Linked DNA regions of Homo sapiens. The protein of the gene in region 2 purifies or fractionates together with the protein of the main gene of each other region. This does not show direct contact. Each region holds a gene or a part of one and is shown on either strand. Other genes may lie near its edges.

The links.
Region 1: the proteins of PCDHA10 (region 2) and AGAP1 purify together in Homo sapiens (affinity purification with mass spectrometry, with the first as the bait; one large-scale study listed by BioGRID). This does not show direct contact.

The regions. Positions count from the first base shown.
Region 1 is NC_000002.12:236,039,337-236,043,150, reverse strand, and holds part of AGAP1 (arf-GAP with GTPase, ANK repeat and PH domain-containing protein 1), read right to left. Parts: intron 2,401-3,814; coding exon 2,310-2,400; intron 1-2,309. UniProt on the Homo sapiens protein: GTPase-activating protein for ARF1 and, to a lesser extent, ARF5. Directly and specifically regulates the adapter protein 3 (AP-3)-dependent trafficking of proteins in the endosomal-lysosomal system.
Region 2 is NC_000005.10:140,854,326-140,858,874, forward strand, and holds the start of PCDHA10 (protocadherin alpha-10 isoform 1 precursor), read left to right. Parts: upstream 1-1,571; 5' UTR 1,572-1,723; coding exon 1,724-4,111; coding exon of another isoform or gene 4,112-4,258; exon of another isoform or gene 4,259-4,549.

The DNA.
Region 1 (3,814 bases), on a different chromosome or scaffold from region 2:
TCCCGGTACTTTAACCAAAATTGGGTATTTTTACTTAACAAATCCTTGCCAATGTGCTACATCTTCTGAGCCTTTCCATTCTTGAGAAAATACAGCAGGCTGGACAACAGATGGGTTTGAATCCTGCTTTGGGACTTGCTATTTCTGTGACCTCAGACAAATGACTTGACCCTTCAGGCTCCTCAATTCCTCCCCTTTAAGTGGGGCCCACAGGGGCACCAACTACTAGGGTTGCAGAATGAAAAGACAGCGCATGGGAGGGTTTGGCACCGGGCTGACACAGACCACACATTTAGCAAATGCGTGCTTGGTATCGCCTCTTTCTCCTGAATTGTCAAACTCTGCCTTTTCCCTTTGTCCCTGTCCATCTGCTCAGGTGGTCTTGCTCAGAACAAACTGGCCCACACCTCCCCTGCACTGGCCTCCCTTTCCCACCCCCCATCCGCACTCACATGCACAAGCTCATCTCAGACAGGACCTGCGACCTCCGATTTGCCAGGTATCATGGTCCCCGCAAGCCACGGATGGCTTTCCTTTTAAAGCGACCTTCAGACGCACGGTGGAAACAACTGCAGGCATTTTCCTTAATGGATGTTCTAATATTTCTCAGATTCGTGCTTTTAAAAAAGCTCTTACTTTTAAAACTTTTTGATAGAAACACACTTCAAATAACTGCTTCTCTCTTCGAACTTCATTTCACCACACATTTGAAAGTAAAACTTAAACATTCAAACATAAGGAGGTACTTTAAAGAAGAACCTCAAGATACCTGGAGAAGAACCCCTTCCCTCACCCGCAGGACAGGCTTCCAGAGAGGCCGCAGACAGACTTTTGATCTCTCCCCTGCCTGCTATGCTGCTGAGTGGACTCTTGGAGGGGGCGCTTCCTTTCCCTTTTGTCTGGAGCAGTCCTGGGCTCCTGTCTCCCTTCCCGGCCAAGCCGACCCTGGCTGGCCTCCTCCCTGCTTTGCCTCTATTCCAGTATGTTCAAAATGGTCTGGCCAGATCCATCTCCCCAAGTGGAGCTCAGGGTCCATCTCCTTCCTGCTCTAAAACTCCAATGATGTCTCTCTGCTTACAAATGAAGAACAAAGCTGGAAAAAGTTTCACTTGGCACTCACACTCCAACTAGCTTCTACTGGTTTTCCAGCCCAAAAAGCATCTCTAATCCTACAACCACCCAGAGAAGCTCTCCTCAAGCCACTCCCTTTGCTCACAGTGATTCCTTCGGCCCCTTCCCTGTACAAACCCTGCCCATCTCCAGAGCCCTGCTGACACGACAGCTCCTGCATGGGTGGCAAGACCGCCGCATGCCCCCGATGGCTCTCCCCAGCGCTTAGCTCCATGGTCAGCAGGTTGGTGCCTTGTCCAGTGCATTTCAGGCTTCAGGATGGCAGGACCCACCACGCCATGCACGTTTGACTCCTGGGCAGCACCCAGCCTGGTACCAGCACCTCTTACCTTGTTTGAACTGAACTTCCTTCTCTTCAAAACACTACTTAACAAAAAAAATCTGAAGGGAAGAAATTTACTGAATGTCTCCAATACTGTCTCTGGGCTGGGACTGCAACCATGAAAATAAGTCCCTACTCTCAAGATTATGAACAACAAAATGACTTTTTCAAAGGGAAAGTAATAGTATGGATTAGACAACGGAAATCATGAAATAAAACTGGGGTACTCGATGGCACAAAGCAGTAATTACAACTTCTATCAGTTCAATCAGAGGCTTTAGTGGGTAATGGATTTAAGACCAAAAAAAAACAAGACATCATTTGATGGCAAAACCCAGAACATATGATTGTGAATTTAAAAAAACAATACCCAAGAATCTCTAGGCAGGAATGAACCAATTATATTCTATTTTTATGAAAAAAAAAAAAAATCAACAAGTGATCACTGATTAAGCAAAAAGTAAGCCAGCTGCCACGCCTAGTTAATTTTTAATTTTCTGTAGAGACGGGTTCTCCCTGTGTTGCCCAGGCTCGTCTTGAATTCCTGGGCTTCCTAGATTTGGCACAGGCTGTGGGTGTGGGGTTGAATCCTTTGCACCTCAGGTATGACTGCTGCTCATCGGATGCCTAAGGCAAGGAAAGACTCACAGAAACGCACCCTGCAGCCAGGGGTGAGGCTTGTGTGGAAGGCACTCTGTTAAGGTAAAATCCAAACAAAATATCTCAATTTCCTAAAAGCAGTTAACTCTTATCTGCCAAACAGGACAGATGTGAGTCCCCTGCAACCCGGGCCTAGTGGGACCATGTGGTCTCCAGCTACACAGCGCCAGCCCCTGCTACCACCGCACACACTTACTCTGGGTCTCGCAGTCCACACAGTGGGAGTTCCCGCGCATGTTCCGGATCGACTGCAGGGCCATGGCCTCGCTCTGGCTCGTCAGCCGGGACTGGGCACGGAGGAAGACACAAATACAAGGCGTAAGCACCCCGGGAGAAACGCACATCACTGATAACATCAGGGAAAGATCAAACAGATTGGGAGCAAATGTAGGACGAGGGTAATTTCTAAACAATCACTCTTGTTTTGATGTCTTTGGGAAAGAGCATAACTGAAGAAGAAATCATCATGCATGGGGCGGGGGGAGGGAGGAAATGTCACATTTTAACTCATCAGCTGAGACGGACTCTGCCAGAAATGAGCAAAGAGGAGAGTTCTGGATCATCTGTGAATACGCATGGACCATGGTAACCTGGAGAAGGTAAATGGGTAACCTTCTGGGCAGTAGCCACATGTCTACTTGGTAAGAAGAATGAGAAAGAAATAATCCGTTTATAAGCCCAGGGTTAGGGCTTCATCAGCAATGTAAGACATATCTCATGGTTCCTTGTCAGAAAACCCCATTCATACCACACGTCACCCTGGGAGATGCACATGTCATCTGAAGACCCTCGGTTGCCACAGTGACAAAGCCACTCGCCAGGGTGGGGGCAGGGAGAAACACGAGTATAGCTGGGAGTGCTGATTCTTAACCTTACACTTGATGGCTTGCTTTATTTTTATTTATTTATTTATTATTATTATTTTTTGAGCCAGTGTCTCGCTCTGTGGCTGAGGCTGGGGTGCAGTGGTGTGATCATAGCTCACTGCAGCCTTGAACTCGTGGGCTCAAGTGATCCTCCTGCCTTAGCCTCCTATAGTGTTGAGATTACAGGTGTGAGCCACCACACCTGGCTCTATGGTCTTCTTTAAAAAGGATTTAAAAACATACATGCTCATTGAAGCAAGTTTAGAAAATACAGAGAGGGGAAAAAGAACATAAAATTAATAAACAATCATACGGCCATCCATAGTTAAGCATTATTAACATTTTGATGTCTGTTCTTTTAGCCTGTTGTTTAAGCACATCTACATACACATATGTACTTTAAAAAGCCAGCGTAATACATATTGCTGCATAGAAACCTGCCCTTTCCAGCCTAACGAAACTTGTTCATTGCTCACTGCTGTCACATACTCTCTGACATCATCATTTTAAATGGCTGCATAGCATTCCACTTAGTGAAGACCTACTTATCAAGTTCTCTTTGATGGACATTTAAGTTGCTTCCAATTTTTCTCTATCATAAACGATGCTGTAAGAACATATGATTGCTAAGTCTTGGTACACACTCATGATTATTTACTAAGAATAGATTCCTGGAAGTAGAAGTTCTAAGTGAAAGGATATGTACTGGATATGTACCTTTTTCCCCACCTAGAGAGAGGGTCTTGCTCTGTTGCCCAGGCTGGAGTAGTGCAATCATAGCTCACTGCAGCCTCCATCTCCTGGGCTCAAGTGGTCCTCCCACCTCAGCCTCCTG
Region 2 (4,549 bases):
TTATTTTACGCTCCAGATAGCTAAAACAAACGTTGATATTTTGATACATAACTCATTACATTTTAATTCAGGGTTTATAAAAAAGTAATCTCTAAAATCAGAATTTGAATGAATTTTGATGCAAGAGGCATTCCAGAGGAGTAGAGAAGTATAGAAACAGAATTTAGTAGGACACATAAACTGATGGATTAAGTGACACCCATTTCTGTCAGTTTTCTTATTCATAAATATTGTTGCTCTGTCATTCAGATTTTAATAAAAAAAGTTTAAAGTAATTGACACATTTAAAAATATTCTTTAGAAAAGTCAAAACATCATTAAATAAAATAAATTAACCCTTGCATAAGACCAATATGTCTGTTGTTAAGTTTTCCTTTCTTGGAAAGACAGAAAACTCAAGTTTTTTTCAGCAGCACAGATATATTACATTTTCATTCCTGAATATTTGATTTCAAGAACTTTGAGAGAGAAAAAAATATTTTTACTGCAAGTGGTGATGAAAAACTTCACTGACATTGATAAAATTACTAGATATATTTCAGAACTGTGTCTTTTGGGCATTTGAAAAGCGTAAATATAACAGGGTTGAAAGCATTTGCCTCTGAAAGCAGAAATAATAAATTTCTTAATTACTTTATTCAGAATTATAATTAAGATTCTTTTTGCCCGTGTAAGATATTATAAAATGAAACTTCTTGTATAAAGGATTTTTCTGTAATAGTACTTTTCTGTTTTCTTAAATACAGAAACCACCACTCTCAGCCTGTGCAGTAGCAATAATTAAGGCATTCTATAGGTAATAATTTTGCCTGATGAGCCAAATTTGGTATTGAGCCTCATGAAAACAAATGTGGCCAAATTGAGGCCTGAGAATAGTTTCCATTTATGAAGCACTCATTCTCCTTAAGGTACTATTGCAAGCACTTACTATATTATAATTCACTCAACCACCGTATTACTATTAGGCCAAAGTTATAAAATTGGAACATGAGGGAGGGAGAGGTTAAACGATTTTCCCAAGTCATGTGGCTAGTGAGTAGGATAATAGGAATCTAAATGGAGAAATGTCTGATGTTGAAGCTAATGATCTCTAAATTCTAGTGATGACTAGATCTTCGGAGTTATAAACACCTCACAGATAGTTGATGCTTGACATTAGTGTCTAAATAAACCTTATTAAATCTCAAAATAATGAGAAAGAGAAGTAAGTTAAGTGTCAGAACTTAAATGGAACTAAAGTTGTCATTTAATAAAATATTAGTATACTCAGTAGTATGCAAATATTAAGGGCATTTTGAAATTCGGCTATTGATAATCATGTGGTTAGGGAAGAAATCACTACTCTGAGAGTCTACATTTAAGAAAACATTGCACGTGGGATCAACATTTATTGTTATTAACTATAAAGAGACGTAATGTGAGGCTTTGAAAGTCCATAGACATAAAAATACGTAAAAAAAGAATTAACATATGAATGAAAGAAAAGTTGTGAACTCATGGAATCGTACTTACACCTAAAGCCACCGGATGTCGCTGTCGTCCACAAAATAGCTTTTTAGAACAAAGGCATCAGCCAGTTTCTCAAGGACTAGGAAGTAGCGTCATTCTGAGATCTCAGCCATTTCGATAAAAAATAGATATAAGAAATAGGACAGAAAATGTCAGATCGTATGTGCGTTCTAGACCGCTGATTCGTCGATTTGTAAAACAAGAGAAGGATAAGATGGTTTCCAGATGTAGCTGCCTGGGGGTCCAGTGTCTGCTGCTCTCGCTTCTTCTCCTCGCAGCCTGGGAGGTGGGGAGCGGCCAGCTCCACTACTCAGTCTACGAGGAGGCCAGACACGGCACCTTCGTGGGCCGCATCGCGCAGGACCTGGGGCTGGAGCTGGCGGAGCTGGTGCAGCGCCTGTTCCGGGTGGCGTCCAAAAGACACGGGGACCTTCTGGAGGTAAATCTGCAGAATGGCATTTTGTTTGTGAATTCTCGGATTGACCGCGAGGAGCTGTGCGGGCGGAGCGTGGAGTGCAGCATCCACCTGGAGGTGATCGTGGACAGGCCGCTGCAGGTTTTCCATGTGGACGTGGAAGTGAAGGACATTAACGACAACCCGCCCAGGTTCTCCGTAACAGAACAAAAGCTCTCAATACCTGAATCCAGACTGCTTGACTCTCGATTTCCACTAGAAGGCGCATCTGATGCGGATGTTGGAGAGAACGCATTGCTTACTTACAAACTCAGTCCAAATGAGTATTTTGTTCTTGATATTATAAACAAAAAAGACAAAGACAAATTCCCAGTGCTTGTTCTGCGGAAGCTGCTGGATCGTGAAGAAAATCCTCAGCTAAAGTTGTTGTTGACAGCAACTGATGGAGGCAAACCTGAATTTACCGGATCTGTTTCTCTGCTGATCCTGGTGTTAGATGCCAATGATAACGCCCCTATCTTTGACAGACCGGTTTATGAAGTTAAGATGTATGAAAATCAAGTGAACCAAACATTAGTAATACGGCTCAACGCTTCTGATTCGGATGAAGGAATAAACAAGGAAATGATGTATTCATTTAGCTCTTTGGTCCCACCCACGATAAGAAGGAAATTTTGGATAAACGAAAGGACGGGAGAAATAAAAGTAAATGATGCTATTGACTTTGAGGACAGTAACACTTATGAAATTCATGTAGATGTTACAGATAAGGGAAACCCACCTATGGTTGGTCACTGCACGGTCCTAGTGGAACTACTGGATGAAAATGATAATTCACCTGAGGTGATTGTCACTTCTCTGTCTCTCCCAGTGAAAGAAGATGCTCAAGTGGGCACCGTCATTGCCCTAATCAGCGTTTCTGACCATGATTCAGGAGCCAACGGACAGGTCACCTGCTCTCTGACGCCTCACGTTCCGTTCAAGCTGGTGTCCACCTACAAGAATTACTACTCATTGGTGCTGGACAGCGCTCTGGACCGCGAGAGGGTGTCGGCCTATGAGCTGGTGGTGACCGCGCGGGACGGGGGCTCGCCTCCGCTGTGGGCCACGGCCAGCGTGTCTGTGGAGGTGGCCGACGTGAACGACAACGCGCCTGCGTTCGCGCAGTCCGAGTACACGGTGTTCGTGAAGGAGAACAACCCGCCAGGCTGCCACATCTTCACGGTGTCTGCGTGGGACGCGGACGCGCAGGAGAACGCCCTGGTGTCCTACTCTCTGGTGGAGCGGCGGTTGGGCGAGCGCTCGCTGTCGAGCTACGTGTCGGTGCACGCGGAGAGCGGCAAGGTGTACGCGCTGCAGCCGCTGGACCACGAGGAGCTGGAGCTGCTACAGTTCCAGGTGAGCGCGCGCGATGGGGGCGTGCCGCCTCTGGGCAGCAACTTGACGCTGCAGGTGTTCGTGCTGGACGAGAACGACAACGCTCCCGCGCTGCTGGCGTCTCCCGCTGGCAGCGCGGGCGGTGCAGTCAGTGAGCTGGTGCTGCGGTCGGTGGTTGCGGGTCACGTGGTGGCTAAGGTGCGCGCAGTGGACGCTGACTCTGGATACAACGCGTGGCTGTCGTATGAATTGCAGTCGGCGGCGGTTGGTGCACGCATCCCGTTTCGCGTGGGGCTGTACACGGGCGAGATCAGTACGACGCGCGCTCTGGATGAGACTGACTCGCCACGCCAGCGCCTACTGGTGCTGGTGAAGGACCATGGCGAGCCGTCGCTGACGGCCACGGCCACTGTGCTTGTGTCGCTTGTGGAGGGCAGCCAGGCACCCAAGGCCTCGTCGCGGGCTTCAGTGGGCGTGGCGCCCGAGGTGGCCCTGGTGGATGTCAACGTGTACCTGATCATCGCCATCTGCGCGGTGTCCAGCTTGCTGGTGCTCACGCTGCTGCTGTACACTGCACTGAGGTGCTCGGCGGCGCCCACCGAGGGCGCATGTGGGCCGGTGAAGCCCACGCTGGTGTGCTCTAGCGCGGTGGGGAGCTGGTCTTACTCGCAGCAGAGGCGGCAGAGGGTGTGTTCTGGGGAGGGCCTGCCCAAGGCGGACCTCATGGCCTTCAGCCCCAGCCTTCCACCATGCCCAATGGTAGATGTGGACGGGGAAGATCAGTCTATTGGAGGGGACCACTCTAGGAAGGTGGGTTATTACGTTTTCATTTTCCTTTTGTGCTTTATGAATAATATTTTCTCTTACCGCATTTTCTCAAATATGTATCAGAATATTTCATTTTTGTCTACATTCCATTTATGCTTGAATATTTCTAGTGATACCTTTGTAATATAATTTATTCCAGGAGTTTTAAAATTTTTTTATCCTACCCAGTGTGTCAGCCTTTGATTGGTACTTAAATTTTTTTAAATAACAATTTATTCTGAATACACTAATATTTTCCAATACAAATATGTGATATAGGTTGCAGTTCTGACGATTTACTTTCATAATCACTTTTCGTTACAAATATTTGTGAGATTAGTACTTCATGTTATTTCATTTCCAATCTAAATTTTGATTTGATTGTATTTGCATTACCAAAAAATTCCACTGATCTATATCTCTTCAGTGAAAATGTGTTTT